2 separate regions of the Homo sapiens genome follow, and region 2 is linked to region 1. The links come from fine-mapping of genetic effects on gene expression. Tissue or cell type: lung. Region 1 holds a variant in brackets; the other region holds the start of a gene. All regions are shown on one strand. Distances are from middle to middle.

Region 1 (8,103 bases):
CCCTGAGAGCATGAGCCCCCTCTCAGCCTGTGCTGTGGTCCCTGGTCCCCCTCGTCACCAGCTATGGCTCTAGTGGCTGCTTCAGTGCTAATGAGACAAGCCGGAGCTCCTGGCAGCTACACAGCTCTGCAGGAAAGTGAGTCTTGTGTTCTCTGCTGAAGAATATCTGGGGCTCTGAGTCAGTCACCCTGAGAGCACAGGCCGAGGTTGGTGGAGTTGGCACCTGCTGTTCCCTCAGGTTTCTCCGAGTGCCGAGAAGGGAGAGCTCACCTGCTTCTGGGGCTGCTGTGTCACGGGCCCTAGGGGTTCAGCAGGGCAGGAGAAAAGGCCAGTCATATCCTGACAAGGCTGCTCTTTCTCTTCTCCAAATAATCAAAGCCTGGGACAGTGGGCTCAGCTTTTACCATCAGCCAGTTCTAGCCACACCCAGTGGCAGCCCTGGGAGAGTTGTTGCCAGAGTAGCATGGTCCCCCGTCCTTATCACCAAAGTGTTGATTATCTGCACATCTCATATTTTTGTGATCCCCCTGGGTCCCTCTTTCGGCAACCCTCTAGAGGTGACTTAAGTCCTCCATCCTTTTCTGTGGAGTCCCTAGCTGGTGGTCTGGCTGCAGCTGTCTTTGCCGCCAGCGGCCGAGCTCTCCTCTCTGTGAGGCTCAGCTCCAAGCCCGTGCTTCATGCCAGCCCTGCCAGGATGGTGCTGTTCTTGCCCCGCTTGCAGGTGAGGACGCCAAGGATTCAAAACAGCACGCGTGTGGGTGGGGCCCGTCCCACACCCCTAGATGGGGAGCCAGCGTTGACCCTGGTCGGGCCGACTGTGAGGTGACACTGTACTGTTATTTCACATCCTGAGAGTCTTTTCTCAGACTGTAAGCTCTTGGGAAACAAGAGCTGAGTCCACACTCCCTTCGTATCTCCCTGCTGCCAGCAGAGAGCTGGGCTCTGGGCCGGAGCTCCACAGGGGCAGGGGCTCTGCCTGTCCCTCATGCAGCGCCCTCGGCGCCCAGGACGAGTGAGCAATGGACGCAGATATGGCCCGCCCTGACCCACACTGTCTTTCTTGCCCCTCAGGCCATCTCTCGCCTCTGCGAGGACAAGTACAAGGACCTAAGAAGATCCGCGAGGAAGCGCTCAGCCAGTGCAGACAACCTGACTCTGCCCCGGTGGTCCCCAGCCATCATCTCTTAACTACGGAGGCCCGCCGGAGGCCACACCATCCCTTAGTTTCTCCTTTAGTTTGAGAAAAGACAGACTTGGGGTGGGTTTGTTTTTGTTTTTTCTTTCCTTTTCTTTTTTTACGCATAGCTCCGTCAAGCTGCCTGGATGAGCGCCCATGCAGCAAGGCTTGGAGGAAGCGTCAGTGCCCTGGAGATCCCAGCTCGCTCTCCCCACTGTCAGCAACAGCACTTCCTTCGTGGAGGAAGTGGACTCGAATCCTGGAGGAGGAAATAAAGGGAAAGGGAAGTCGTGGAGAGGCAGGGAAAATGGTTAAGCAGCCCGGCCCTCTGGAGTCCCCATGGGGGCGGTAGCTGAAGTTGGCGAGCGCAGCGGTGGATGCAGAGCTGGCTGCACCCAGGGCTGGGCCAGTGTGTCCTGTAAGACTTCTTGCATTCCTTCTGCTGCTTTTTTGGGATGGGGGTATTTTTGTTCATTTGTTTTTGCCCTGTTTTGATTTTGGTCCCACAGAGCAGGGGATGTAGTTTGTACCCACCATGGCGCAGACTTCCAAATAAATAGTACTGGTCATTTCTCTCTGCACTATTTCTGCGCGCTGTCTTCTGAGCTTTCTTCCTCACCAGTGGGCTGTGCTTGTTCCATTTCTGTACACCCTTATTTTATACCGTTTTTCTTCAACAATGGCGAAATTGACTGTAGTGCTGAACCAAAAGTATCCCTTTCCCTCCTTATTCCTCACCCCAAGAACATTCTAGATCACATGGGTGCTTGTGCCTTCCGATTTTCTTGCATTTGTTTTTTTCCTGACCTGAAGTTGTTGTTACAAAATCAGTCAGACTTTGTGGGCTGAAGGACACGGTGCAGCAGAGGGTGTCCCTGTGAGAGTTCTGCAGAGTGCTGGGCATGTGCCTGGAACTACCGAGTAGGAGCCATTTCTTTGTACCCCTGCCTAATCCATTCCTCTCCTTCCAAGTCCATTGTTGCAAGCAATATTCTTCTCAATTTTTATATGTTTACTTTAAATCAAAGTTAGTCTATTTGTATAAAATTTTTAAAAAATCTAAAAGAAAAAGAAAAAAAACAAGGGTGGGTTGGGTATTCCAGTGGGAAGATCATTGAAGGGAAAAATGTTACTATTTACTGAGGTATTTTTCACAGAATGATTGAATTAAAAAAAACTCAACTTGCATTTTCATTGTGGGTGCTTAGAGAAGTTCTACAAAATTCAAACTGTGAAGGTTTATGCTTCATTAATTATGACCATACTTTTTCATTTTCTGACGATCCCTGATTTCCTTATGGACTCAATAAGAATCTTTTATATCAAGTAAAATGAAAGTTGATGATAGAATATCAAATAGTGAATTTGATATGAAATCTAAGAGTGTGAGTCACTTGCATATGTAATGCTTTGGGTTTTTGCATATTTTCTTAGGTCACAGTGACAGGTTTCTGAGTTGTTTCCCTTTTCAAGTCTCTGGGAGGCCAGTGGCAGCAGCAGGTCTGTGTTTCACCTTCTTCCCATGTGAGCTTGGAAAACTTTGGCATCTTAATTAGTCTTGAATCATACACCTGATCCCCAAACATTGCCTGCTCTCAATGAAACATGCTTTGGAAATGGAAGGGACTCAGAAAGTCGAAATCCCAAGAACTCCAAGCCAAAAGTGTTAGGTTTTAGTGAAATTTGTGTCAGGTATAAGCATACCTGTTTGGGCCAGAATTATTATCACAGCCTTTCTGACCCAAACTTTCAAAAGCAAATAAACAGCATATAAAACGTTAATTATCTTTCCATTGTAATTGTGATGATCTACTCTGTATGGGTACCAAAATCACCTTCTCTCTTCAAGTCAAAGTTGAATTTAGAACTTTGAATACAGGTCAAAAAATGTAGAAAATATCATTTTATATTCCCTAATCTATATAGCTGAAAAAGGGTTGTATTTTCTTAGCTGAATATGAATACCTCTTAAACATAAATTAGTTCCTCTCCAGTGAAGTATCTTATTTTACCAATCCATTTCAGGAAAGAGGTTCTGCTGCCGTAAAGGCAGAAATTTTATTTTTATCCCTTTTATTTGAATGAGAGATTTGAAAATCGAATTATGTAAATATTTCAATGCATCTGCTATTATTTTGTGGAGTTTATTAAACTACTT[TA/T]AAAAAATTGTATAGTCTATTTATTGTATGTATGTACATACAGTCTGATACCTAAAATTTAAAGTGGATTCCATAAAACCAGACTCAAGTCTTGTTTAGACTACTGAATACTGTTTTAGCCTGTGCCCTGGATTCTACCTCTGTATAGGAAAATTTTCCATATTCATTAATTAGTGTTGATCTGTATTAATTGGTTATGTTTCTTGCACTAAGGATGTTTAAAACTCCGCTGTAAGTGTAGATTTTAGTTTTACTGGCAGGATGAATCACTTGACACATAGGTAGATACTTGAGGTTCATTTTCTTTTCTTTTTCTACATGATGATGAATAGTTATGTTTTCTTCTCTGATTTGTTCAAAGTTTGCCAAAAGAAAACACAAAACCAGTACAGTACTTACTGATAAATCGTAGTGACTGTAATTTGTTTGTAAGGCGAATTAATGCTCTACAATTAAAGCTGGATTACTATTGAGGAACACATTGTCTTAGTGTAGTTTTTGAATGGAAAGTTTTTGTCATTAAGGATGAAGGAAACGACACAATTTGTTACTTTAATTTTATATTTGATTTAAACAACAAATAAAGTCATTGGGACAATAAATATATATCCCGATGAATCTTTTTGATTTGTTTTACTTTTCTTATTTTTTTTTTTTTAACTAGAAAAAGGGAAAGAAGAAGTCAGGAGTTTAAAACCAAATTGGAGGGCAGATGAGAAATCCTGCCAAGATCGGGATGTGCCTTCATGCATGAGGTGAGGCCAGAGGTGTGGGCACCTGTACCTGCCTCCTCTTCTGGGCTGGCTTTCCTGTCTGCCTGCTCTCGGGCTTGGGCAGAGCCATCTCCATCCTGGGGTTTCCTTTAAGCTAAGCTGAAAGCAAAATTTGGGGAGTGAATGATTTAAACTTTTCCTGCTGCTTTTGGTAACTTCTCACCTGGGGCCATATTTTACAGATTTGAATTTTTTTTTTTCTTTTTTTGAGATGGAGTCTCGCTCTTGTCACCCAGGCTGGTGTGCAATGGTGCGATCTGGGCTCACTGCAACCCCCACTTCCCGGATTCAAGCAATTCTGCCTCAGCCTCCCGAGTAGCTAGGATCACAGGCACCCACCACCATGCCCAGCTGATTTTTGTAGTTTTAGTAGAGACAGAGTTTCACCACGTTGGCCAGGCTGGTCTCAAACTCCTGACCTCAAGTGATCCACCCCCCTCAGCCTCCCAAAGTGCTGAGATTACAGGCGTGAGCCACTGCCCCTGGCCCAGATTTGAAATTTTTTAAAAATAAAACATGATTCTTGGTTATTGTAGGTATTTAATAAATGTTAAATAAATATATACATAGAACAAAGTAGTGCCTGCCTTCCTGCTGTGTTTTTTGAGTTAGTATATTGAGATAAAATTCAACAGGTTTTATGGATGCTGAGTGAACCAGTTCTTTGCAAGAGCAGTGGTAGAAAGTGGTATTGGCCCTGTGTTCTTGAGCGACTCACAAAAGTATGAGAGCTACTCCAGCAATTGAGAAGTTGCACAATAGAGACCTAATAGAACATGTCACTTTCATATTGATACCCCATTTTGTCTGAAACCACTTTATCTCCCTTGATGTCATTGGAGTCAGCATCTTGGGTGGGTCTTAAAGACATTATCTTCTGAAAAGTCAGCCATGATGAGGTCCTACCCTTGTTGAAAAAGAGAAGGAAACAAGAAACATGCTCTTGCACTGAGACAGGAACAGGATACTTAACTTGGGTTTTATATATATATTTATTTTTAAATATATATATATTTTTAAACAGAGTCTCACTTTGTCACTCTGCCTGGTGTGCAGTGGCACAATCATAGCTCACTGTAGCCTCCAACTCCTGGGCTCAAGTGATCCTCCCGCCTCAGCCTCCCTGGGACGATGGGCCTGTGCCACCATGCCCACCTAATTTACTTGTTTTTTTTTTTTTGAGATGGAGTCTCACTCTGTCGCCCAGGCTGGAAGTGCGGTGGTGCAATCTCAGCTCACTGCAACCTCTGCCTCACAGGTTCAACTGATTCTCCTGTCTCAGCCTCCCAAGTATCTGGAACTGCAGGCACACACCACCACACCTGACTAATTTTTGTATTTTTCATAGAGATGGGGTTTCACCATGTTTGCCGGGCTGGCCTCAAACTCCTGACCTCAAGTGATCCGCCGGCCTCAGCCTCCCAAAGTGCTGGGATTACAGGCGTGAGCCACTGCTCCTGGCCAGGCTAATTTTTAAATTTTCTATAGAAATGGGGTCTTGCTGTGTTGCCCATGCCGGTCTTCAACTCCCAGCTTCAAGTGCTCCTCCTGCCTCACCCTCCCAGGGTGTTATGTCTTTAGCTGCATGGATTTCAAGCCAAGGCCTGCAAACAGCTTGGTTAAGGTGCTGACTTGCTGTTATTGAATGCAGCGCCCTGCTAGAGCTGTTGCACCCAAACAGGGCTGGGGAGATGCCCAGGAGTGCTTGCAGTCACAGTGGTGGGGCTGGAGTTCGTACCTCCAAGTCAGCAGGCTCCCTGCCTGTTTTCCTGTTAGATTTTCTTACTAAGTTTGCATATGTGAAGGGGCTAAAGGTCCTGTCTGTCACTCTTCTCAGCAGTGATCAACCTCAAAATGAGCTTCTTAATCTGGCAGCTGCTGTCTCTGTGCACTGTGGCAGGTCTGAGCTGGGCACAGCAGCTGGGTGAGGACTTGGCCTGGCAACTGTATCTGTCCTTCATAGGTTTTTGTGAAAAGAGTTCTGCAGAACCTGTTACAGTAAGAAGTGAACTCAAACATGATGTCTGACTTAATGATGTTCAGATTCTACAGGTCTCAATAAACTTTCCAGTGTCCTTTAAGGGACTTGGTTTCAGTGGGGGGCTTTCCTTTTAAGAATTTTTGTTCATATAAATAAGTTATTTCAAATAAGGGATAAAAGAATGGCATTACAAAATATAGTTTGGGATAGAAATATTAAATGTAGCGAGAATTTATGCATAAGATGTTAACATCGGTATTGATTTTTTTGTCATGGAACCTTGGGTTTTAGTCTCAGTCCAAAAGATTAACTTGCTCTGTGACCTTGGACAAATTATTTGACCTCTCTGGACCTCTCAGTGACCTTGGCTGTGAGGGAGACTCTTGTTTTCATCACCTGTCTTAGTCTGTTTCTGAGCACACTCTGCTCAGCCATTCAGCCACAATTGTTGGACGCTCCTCTAAATGTAGCAAGGGTGGACATAGTAAAAGCCAAGTGCAAGCCTAACGGTGACAGAAAACCCAGGACGAGGGGAAGTCGGTTGTGTTCTCCAGGTCCTCTCCTAAAGAAGGGTGGCCATGGGTAGAAGCAGCAGGTCTTACAGGACCTGGGTACCCAGTTTTCCGCTGCTGTCCCTTCTTCCCCAGCTCTCCCAAGTACAGCTGAATGCTCAGCGTGGCCTCTAGTTGGCCATTCCTGGACCTGGTTTGTGAGTTCTTGTCTGCATTGGTGGATCCTGGAAATCTCGAAACAGTGGAAGTGGGTGTGTGAATCCACTGCCAAGTGCCTCTGTCCTGAAGAGGATGCTGCTTCATTTCTGTGAGCTCCAGCAATGCTTCCTTAGACCTGCTGACCAAAGCTCAGGAAGCCAACCTCGGAAGAGAAGGATTTTGCACCTCCTCCCGTGCAGACACCAGCACTAGGGGGCAGCGCGTGGTAATGATGACTCTGCAGGGGCAGGACCCCCCAGGACCAGGCCTTGGTGCAATGCAGCAGGCATGTGGTCTGGCAGGTCCCATGGCTGTGATCAATTCTGAGTCACTTCATCTTTAAAACAGAGAAATGTGTGACTTCCAGAGCCTTTCCGTCCCTAATATCCCGTTATGGTTATGCTGGGTTTTGCAGGAGCAACCTCGAGACTAATAAGAGGTTTAGTCACCCCTGCAATCTTTGAAAAACAACAAATACAGGATGTGGAAAAACCGAGAGTGAGGCACCCAGAGCCCAGAATGCTGGGTAGCTCCTTCCCTAGCTTGTGCAGCATCCTGTGCTGAGCCACGGCCCCTTACGTGTAAGCAAAACTCGAAACAAAATTCCTGTTCTAGAATATTATCTAGAAAATGTGTACTTGTTTTATACTGACGTAATTCCTTCAACAAATATTGAGCTGGACACTGTCTAATTCATGTTGGGGATGGATATGGCTTTCTTGGGGGATGTTCTAGTGGAGCAGATGGTCAAATAAGTTAGCGTGTAAAAAGGATCTTGGTAAGTGTCAGGAGGGAAATTGAGTGGTTATGATAGTAACTAGGAGGTGGCAGCTTGATGGACATGACCTTTTGAGTGGACGTCTCCGTGGAAGAGATGGGGAGAAGGGAAGATGGATGGAGATGTGGTTGGAGAAGAGCTGATCAGCCCAGGCCTCACAGGCATTGCTGAGGAACACAGATTTGAAGACCAATGGGAAACTGCCACAGAATTTAGTTAGTTCTGGTGCTCAAGGAGTGGGTGTGACAGGCAGCACGGTTCCCGCCTGGACGGCCACAAGGTGGAGAGAAGGGCCACATGTACTTCAGAGGTTACACATAGGAAAAGAAAGACCAGTTCTCGCCACACTTCTGGGGTGAACCATCGGTAAGTTGTAACAGATAATGTGTTCCTGAGGTTAGTCCAAATCCTGAGTACCGGTAATCTACCATGCATCATACACAATGAGACTGTGTCAAGATGAAAAACCCGGACCCCTGCTCTCAAAAGCTGTGTTTGGGCTGGATCAATGAAAACAGACACATT
Region 2 (8,103 bases), 240 kb before region 1:
TATTTCACAACTGCCTTATAAATGCTCGAGTAACCGTCATGAGAAACTGACTACCAGGTGAAAGGGCAGCCATACTCTGAGGAGACACTACAGATTTTCCTTTCCACAAAAGGTTCAGGTCCTGGGCTAACTTGGCTCAGTGTTTTCTGTGTTCCAGAAGGTGACTCAGGGAGTTGTGCAAATGACTGACTCATATTTCATGGATACGAGTATGGCTGATGTAAGACTGCAGTTATCTCCTCCTGATTCAATTAAGGTAGACTATTCTTGATTGTTTTTATCAGTAGATCTATAAATTATACAAGTTGATACTAATATTGCTTATGTTTTAAATAGTGTGGTTCCACAGAAAATTTTGTTTTTTCTGTGAGAAACAAAGCTACTATTGCTAAAAAAGTGTCAAGAGCACTGACTTAGCTATAGTTCATCTGAGTTTTTTTTGAGACGGAGTCTTGCTCTGTCACCCAGGCTGGAGTGCAGTGGCACGATCTCGGCTCACTGCAACCTCCACCTCCCGGGTTCACACCATTCTCCTGCCTCAGCCTCCCGAGCAGCTGGAGCTATAGGCGCCCACCACCACGCCTGGCTAATTTTTTGTATTTTTAATAGAGACAGGGTTTCACTGTGTTAGCCAGGATGGTCTTGATCTCCTGACCTCGTGATCCACTCACCTCAGCCTCCCAAACTGCTGGGATTACAGGTGTGAACCACCGCGCCCGGCCCACCTGAGTTTTATATTTACCTGGTTACAGTGACCAAATTCTTCAACAGTGATCATGGAGAAAGATGAGACAAAATAATTCCCAAATGATTCTTTCTGCTCAAAGACCAGGGTGGGTATGAGTAGATCCAGGTCAATTTTTTTTTTCTTTTAAGAGACAGGGTCTCACTCTGTCACCTAGGCTGGGGTACAGTGGTACAATCATAGCTCACTGCAGCCTCCTACTCCCAGACTCAAGCCATCTTCCTAATCCTCCTCAAGCTTGAGGACAGGCCTTGTTACAATGCTCAGTGTGTACCTCTCCCCTTCTCCACTCCCCTTGTCCACATTCTGGGCTAGATCCACACTCTATTGAGGAACTGTCTCTGTATTTTGATTCCCGAGTGACACAGTGTTGGAGATCCTGTGGCTAGATACACAGGTTATTTCTGCATATGGCTACTCCTCAACCTTGTTGCCTGTCTTACTCTGGTCTGAGAGCTGAACCCCACAGAAATAACAAGGCTCCCCTCATCCCTTTCTCTGAAAGATTAGTACTAGTCCTAAGTGGTTAGCTCCCAGCTTCCTTTAGGACAGAAAAAAGAGAAGGAGAGAAGTGACACTTGTTTTTTTACTCACAAAGTCTTGGAGATAGGAGGTAGGAGGTTGGGGTGGATGTAGCTTGGACTTTGGAATTAGAACCAGGTTCAAATCCCCAATTAGGACATTTCTCAGTATTTTGATCTTAGATAGGTTTACTTATCAAAGTGTCTATTTATAAAATGGGGTATAACTTAATCAGATTTAGATGTAAGAAATAGTATAGTGCATGGCAGCTAGCAGGCTTTCAACGAACGACATCTCTCATTACTATCATTTTGACATCACATTTATCTGCTCAGAGTTGGTTACTGTTCTGCAATTTTTCCCAAAGTGTCACTGTGTGTCAGGCAGGGAGTATCTGCCTGGAGGAGTTTGAAGTATGCATGTAGGGTGGATGAGTTGTGGGGGTCGGCACCCAGGTAAATCACTAGCGAGGCTTTAGTACCCGTCTTTTCTCTCCAGGATTCTTGACCAAAAGTTACACTCTAAATTAAAGTCCAAACAGGTACATACCTAAGGGGAATATGGTGGAAATGTCAAAGAGGAGATAGGGAAAGAGGGGGAGGGGGGCGGGGCACAAAAATCCTGGCAGACCAGAGGCTGTACCACCCTTTGTTAAGGGTATGTGGCTACACTGATCTCTCATCCTCCAGATGCTCTTCCCAGTTAACACTGCCCAGTGACCTTCTTGGACAGGAAGCATGCAGCCAGCCATGCTGTCACCTTAGTGCCACTGTCTCTTTCTCCTCTTAAGCCCTTCAAACCATAATTTGAATGTAAATGTTATACATTTTATAATGAAATAAAAATAGCTTAATGCATCTGAGTAGATATGCCACACACCTATGGTCCAATGACTGGATGCTGACTTTCATATGTGGCCCAAATTACAAAGCAGCAATCAGAACAGACAACAACAGACAACAAGGGAACTTCTCTCCCACGGGTTCAGCAATCTGACCCAAACTCCATAGCCCCAGACAATCTGAATACACACATGCAAGTGTAAATATGCCCCAGTTTTCCCAGGAAGCAGGAAAATCTACACAGCCTCAATGAAGAGCACTATTTTGGACTGTTGTTGTCTACCCACCCTCTCCAGGGCTTTAATTCTTTAGAACTTCCCTTTTACACTTCTTTTCTCATCTGGTCAGCATTACCACTTTGCAGCCACTTATTTTCCATGGACATCTGCCACTTATCCTAACAAATAGCATTAATACAGTTGAGAGCATGGAGCGTTTAAAATATGGACTAATAAATGTATAAACAGTACTTTGAGAGGGAGGGAAAGCACAGGTTAAAAAATGGCTAGATGTAGAGAATTAAATGAAATGTTTATAAAGCCGTTCACACGATGTCCACACATTGCTGATGCTAGATAAATATCAAGTCCCTTATTCCTTCTCTTACCTTTTAGTAACTGGATTTGTCACGAACAGGTACTGAGGTCTGCATAAATCAAGGCATGATTTCATCTCTGGGCCTCAGTTTCCTCATATATAAAATTAAGACAGTTGTACTATTGTACTAGTTTTTTTTTCAAGAACTAGTTCAAAAACATTCCCAGCTCCCACCCCCACCCCCCCACCCCACAAGACTCTCCTCAAGACTCCTTCAGTAAATATTTGGAAAAAGGGTGGGAAGTTTGTTTCTGCCACCTTATATTCTTCCCAATAAAGGCAAGAAAAGTCAGGGATGGCTGGCATTGTGGGCGTCGGGAGGGAATGCGAACCAACATTTACTCTACTTCTCTCCCAGCCAGGCATGTTCACATACCTTGATCTTAGTCAACTGGCCTAAGTTAACTTGTTCCCAACATGACAAAACCCGATGGCATTCTAAAAGCAAAGCAAAGCAAAGCAAGGGCAGTCGATGAGTTGTGTTAACTTAGTTTTCTATCTCATGTTAACCTCCAAGGAACTCAAAACAACTCCACAGCGAATTCAATATTAAAATAGCTCTGGGACCCCAAGATTTATTTCACAGCTTAAAGCAAGGTCACTATCAAGTCCTCGGCAAAGCTCAAAATACAATAGAAAACTCCCAAATCAAGCCCCAGCTTATTTAAATGCTTAGAAAAAAAAAATAGCCAGGTGCCGTGGCTCATGCCCGTAATCCCATGGGAGGAGTCCAGACGGGAGGATTCCTTGAAGACAGGAGTTCGATACCAGCCCGGGTTACGAAGCGAGATCCCATCTCTACAAAAAGTTAACACACACACACACACACATTCACCACCTTAGCCTGGCTTAGTGGCGGGCGCCCGTGTTACAAAGGGAGATCCCATCTCTACAAAAAGTTAACACACATACACACCCTACCTTAGCCTGGCGTAGTGGCGGGAGCCTGTAGTCCTCGCTACTTTGGAGACACACACACACACACACACCCGTAGTCCTCGCTACTTTGGAGACACACACACACACACACACACACACACCTTAGCCAGGCGTGGTGGCGCGCGCCTGTAGTACCGGCTACTTTGGAGGCTGAGGCGGGAGAATCGCTTCAGCCTAGGAGTTCGAGGCTGCAGTGAGCCGAGATTGCGCCACTGCCCTCCAGCCTGGGCGACAGAGCGAAATCATACCTCTAAAAAAATAAATTAGAAAAATAAAAAGACAAAAAGAGCCAGCCCGGTTTCGGAGAGGCAGGTGCAGCCTCAGCGCCCTGGGCCTGCGTCCCCGACCGGGCCCTGGCTGCGCTCCCGCCCGCTGCGGGCCCCGGGGACGCACCTCGCATCCCGCGCTGGGCCCCGTTCCGTCCAGCCCGGGGGAGTGGAGGAGGCAGAGGCCGGGTGGGGAAGGGCCTCCAGAAACCGAGCTCCCGACGACGTCTCCCGCGACCCCAGTGCCCGAGAGAGGAGCGGCCCCCGGGAGCGATCCCACAACCGCGCGGGGCTGCGCCGCCCCGAACCTCCCCGCGGCCGCCGATCTGCTTCCAGGGCAGAGGGAAGGGGCGGTGACGGGGCGGGGCGGGGGCTGCGGCGAGGGCGGGCGCCGCTGGCGAGGGAGGGCCGCCAGCATCCTCCCTGGCCGCGCCGCACCGCGCCGCGAGGAGTCCGGGGGCTGCGCCCACGCCCGCTGCCCGCCCGCTCGTCGGCTAGTCCCGCCGTCCGGCGCGGACACGCGTGCCCCCGGCTTGAACCGGAACCTCTTGCCGAGGCGGCCGCCGTCGCCGCAGCCGCCGGGGAAGCGGACACCAACTGGGGAAGCGCGGGGGGGAGGCGGCCTGCGCGGCGCCGCCCGCCATGGCCGCGGCGGGGTGAGGTAGGCGCGGCGGCCGCAGTCGCGCGGACCCGAGCGCTCCTCCGCCGCGGATAGGCCGGCCGAGGGGGAGCCGGGGCCGTCGCCCGCTCGTCGCCGCCGCCGCCGCCGCCGCCCATGGCGAGGCCCCGCCGCCGCCGCCGCTGCTGACCCGGCGGCCGGCCGCCGTTCCGCCCCCTCCCGTGGCGGCGAGCGGGCGGGCCTCCCCACACGCCCCCGCCGCCCGCGCCCCGCGTCCACCCGCGCCCCGCTCCCGGGGACTGGGAGAACAGGATAGCAGCAGGAGTCGGGGGGCCGCCGAAGATGGGGAACACTACCTCGTGCTGCGTGTCGTCCAGTCCCAAGCTCCGGAGGAATGCCCACTCCCGGCTGGAGTCCTACCGGCCAGACACGGACCTGAGCCGCGAGGACACGGGCTGCAACCTGCAGCACATCAGCGACCGGGAGAACATAGACGGTGAGTGCGGCCCGCCGAGCCCCCTACCCGCCCCCGCGGCAACAGTCGCACAGCCAACGTCGGGGCGGCCCGGCTGCTCTTGCTTGCCCAGCCGGTCTCGGCGACCCGTGCATAACCGGGGCTTCGCCCGCGCAGCCTAGGCGCCCGGGGCCCCGCAGCCTCTGGGCGTACCCCTCGCTGGTTACCCCCAAGTGAGCGGCCGCGGAAACTTTGCAGGCCCGCGGCATCGAGCACGGCGGGCCTAGGGCGGGTGTGTGCGCGTGGGTCGCGAGGTGACAGGAGCCGGCCCTCGTCCTTAATGGAGCGGCCAGAGCTGGGTGGGGGCGGCCCGGGAGCTCGGGGTTCCCGGCACTACCTGAATGCAGCCCGAAGCCAAGTTGTGCACGCGTTTGTCCTATAAAAGCGAAGTGAGTGGATTCCCATTTTGGAATCCCGGTGTCTCCAACCTCGAGTTGGAGAACCATGTTGAGTCAGTTCCCCGGAACCTTACAAATGGACTCCACTTCCCCCGTTCCCATTCTACCGTTTTTTTTAAAAAATGATTTTTTTGAGTGGCGGTTCCAGGATTAGTCAAATAGCTTCTCCCGAGAATGCTCTTTAAAAGATTGTCAGACACCTTTGGGTTAAGTCTCAGTTTTTGCATGGGCCCGAATTGCAGTCCTATGAATTTCTGATTTATTCAGGTGACTTTTGGTTGGTCTGGAGTTTGCAAAAAGAAAAAAAGCTAAGACTAATTACTGCACGCAGTAATGTTTTATTTATTTTATTGGTTTGGCAACATATTTATTAGCACTGTTGCTCAGTGATAACGACAGAGGGATATTTATGCATCATGCTTAAAATATAGTTTATAGAATTTTCAACTGAAAAGATTTGAAATTGGAAGTATCTTTTTATGACAAGGTGATTTTTTTAACCCAAACATCTTCTCATAGTTAATCTGGTTGAACTAATATGAAGAAATTTTTGTGTGAATGAATGAACACAACTTCATAATTCGTTCCTGTCCACTTTAGGATGGAAGATTCTCTCCACTGTGGAAAGGCCACATTTAAACTTTGCTAAAGGAAAGATTTTTCTCGTTTGTCTTCGTGTAATTTCTTCTAAATGGTAGTTTAATCTTTTTAGGAGAGCATCTTTATTAAATGAGTGCCATGTATAAAGGGAGTAACACAACGTCTGGTTTCTAGTACGCGCTTAGTAAATTATGGTTCCATATGACGTGTCTAGTGTTGTTATTTTAGATTTCCATTATTTTAAACATACGCTTAGATGTCTTTGAACTACAGCCATACTTTCTTCTTAAATTTATGCATTTAAAGGCATCTAGAAGGATGAAGGCCAGATCGGTCTTGATCACTTTCACAGCCTCTAGCACCTGAAAGAAAAGTCTAGCATATAATAAACAGTAAGTATTGTACTTTAAAGGGAGGAATAAATGAATGAGTTTATTACAGAAAGCCATTACCCAGTCCTATACTATGTTGACAGGCGAAAACATTTGGAAATAATGTCTTCTTTATGATGTGCAGTAAATTTCCTTTTTATGTTGTGCAGTATCTAGCGGAGGCTTTGTTTTGAATGATGGATCAAAAAAGAAAAAAAAGAAGATTTACATTTCTTAGAGCCAGGCTGCATACAGTTATTATAGACTATTGTAAGGAAATAAGGTGGAAAAAATAAGTGTAACCAGGTATTTGGCACTAAGGCTCAGTACAATTTTGCCAGAGTACAGTGAAATGATATTGTGTGTTCTTTCATTTCAAAGAAATCTTAAGTTTCAGTCATCAGGAATTTTTGAGAGAATGTTTGGAAGACTCTTTTGCAGATTCAGGATAGTTTGAGAGAGTATAGGGCAGGTTTCCAATCTAGGCTGTGGAGTGCCCTCTCATCCCAGATCCCAGTTCATATGATTATGCTAGTTTAAACCCCGAAATATTAATTCACCTTCTGTCTCTCAAATTCAATAAATAATACTTCTAGCATTGACCCAGCCAGCAGTTCTCAACATTGGTTTCAGTTAAACCAGAAATCTAGTACTGGACATTGCCATTAATATGTTTAAATCTCTCCAAGGTGATTCTGAGATGCAGGTAGGCCTGAGAATTGCTGGCTGGGCAAATCTTGGAAGTGTTACCTGCCGTTCAGGGACATTTTTGGTAGAAATTCATTATTAGAGGCTGAGAGAAGAGAACAGGTTTTAATTAAATAGAGTGTATATATATACACACTATATACATCTATATGTCTGTATTTGCTCATCTATATCTGTATGTATTTGAACTGAGTTATATTGATTGTTAGGTTATTAGTAAACATTTTAAAACTACATTTTAAGAATCATTGACTCTAGTATATATCAAAAGCTGAAGTACTCAAATACCATATTTTTTATGTCCTGAAAAACATCCCACCCAGCTGGTTTAGAAAGGTTTGAAGTTCATGGGTCTTCTATGATAGGTTAGTGTCTTTAAATCACAGAGATATGACATATGTATCCATGCTTTCTTCCCTTTGTCACCAGGCACATGAAGGGGTAATACTTGTCCTGTAGAATTTCAGTAATTTTAGTGTCTGGGAACTTAGGTGTCTATGGTGCTTAATGGCAACTTAATGTGTCTTTTTGCTCAGTTTATCTTAGTGTTAGGTTATTCATGTTTTTGAAATTGATATTGGACTCATGCTTTCCAGGTATTATTTCTTATAAAATCATTCAGAGATTGAGAAAAAACAGCAACACATAACAACAATAGTAATCTTCAGAACAATTCTTTAGGAAAATAAAAAAATGATAGTAATAATTGCAGCCTATGTATTACTTACTCTGTAGCAGCTGTCACCAGCTGCCGCTCTAAGTACTTGGATTCCATTCATTTACTTAGAACTCACAGTAACCCTATGGGTAATATTACCCTTACTTTAAGACAAAGAAATGAGTCACTGAGAGGAGAAATGACTTGTCCAAAGTCACACAGCCAATACATGGCAAATGGAAACTTTCCATTGTTGCTTGACTTAGCCATCAAACGTTAGCTAGTCTGGGGTTGCCTTCTGGGATAGGGTGTCTTGTCATTGCA

The links. PIP is the estimated chance that this variant, and not a neighbour inherited with it, causes the effect.
Region 2: it holds the start of CCNY, and the variant in region 1 is fine-mapped to the expression of CCNY in lung (TOPMed, PIP above 0.99). The same link has a PIP of 0.9 or more in fibroblasts.

Annotation. Positions count from the first base shown.
Region 1 is chr10:35,567,983-35,576,085 of GRCh38, forward strand. CCNY (cyclin Y) reads left to right here. Exons shown (of 10, transcript NM_145012.6): 10 at 1,072-4,685. The coding sequence ends at 1,188. Among named protein-coding and RNA genes, the nearest start is that of GJD4, 33 kb to the right of the region's middle. The variant TA/T (reference allele first, on the strand shown) is at 3,336.
Region 2 is chr10:35,332,182-35,340,284 of GRCh38, forward strand. CCNY (cyclin Y) reads left to right here and starts at 4,328. Exons shown (of 10, transcript NM_145012.6): 1 at 4,328-5,026. The coding sequence starts at 4,873. It overlaps CCNY-AS1 (CCNY antisense RNA 1), which reads right to left and starts at 4,243. Exons shown (of 4, transcript NR_186477.1): 1 at 4,039-4,243; 2 at 3,747-3,895. RefSeq lists an enhancer at 60-354 and a silencer at 3,954-4,693.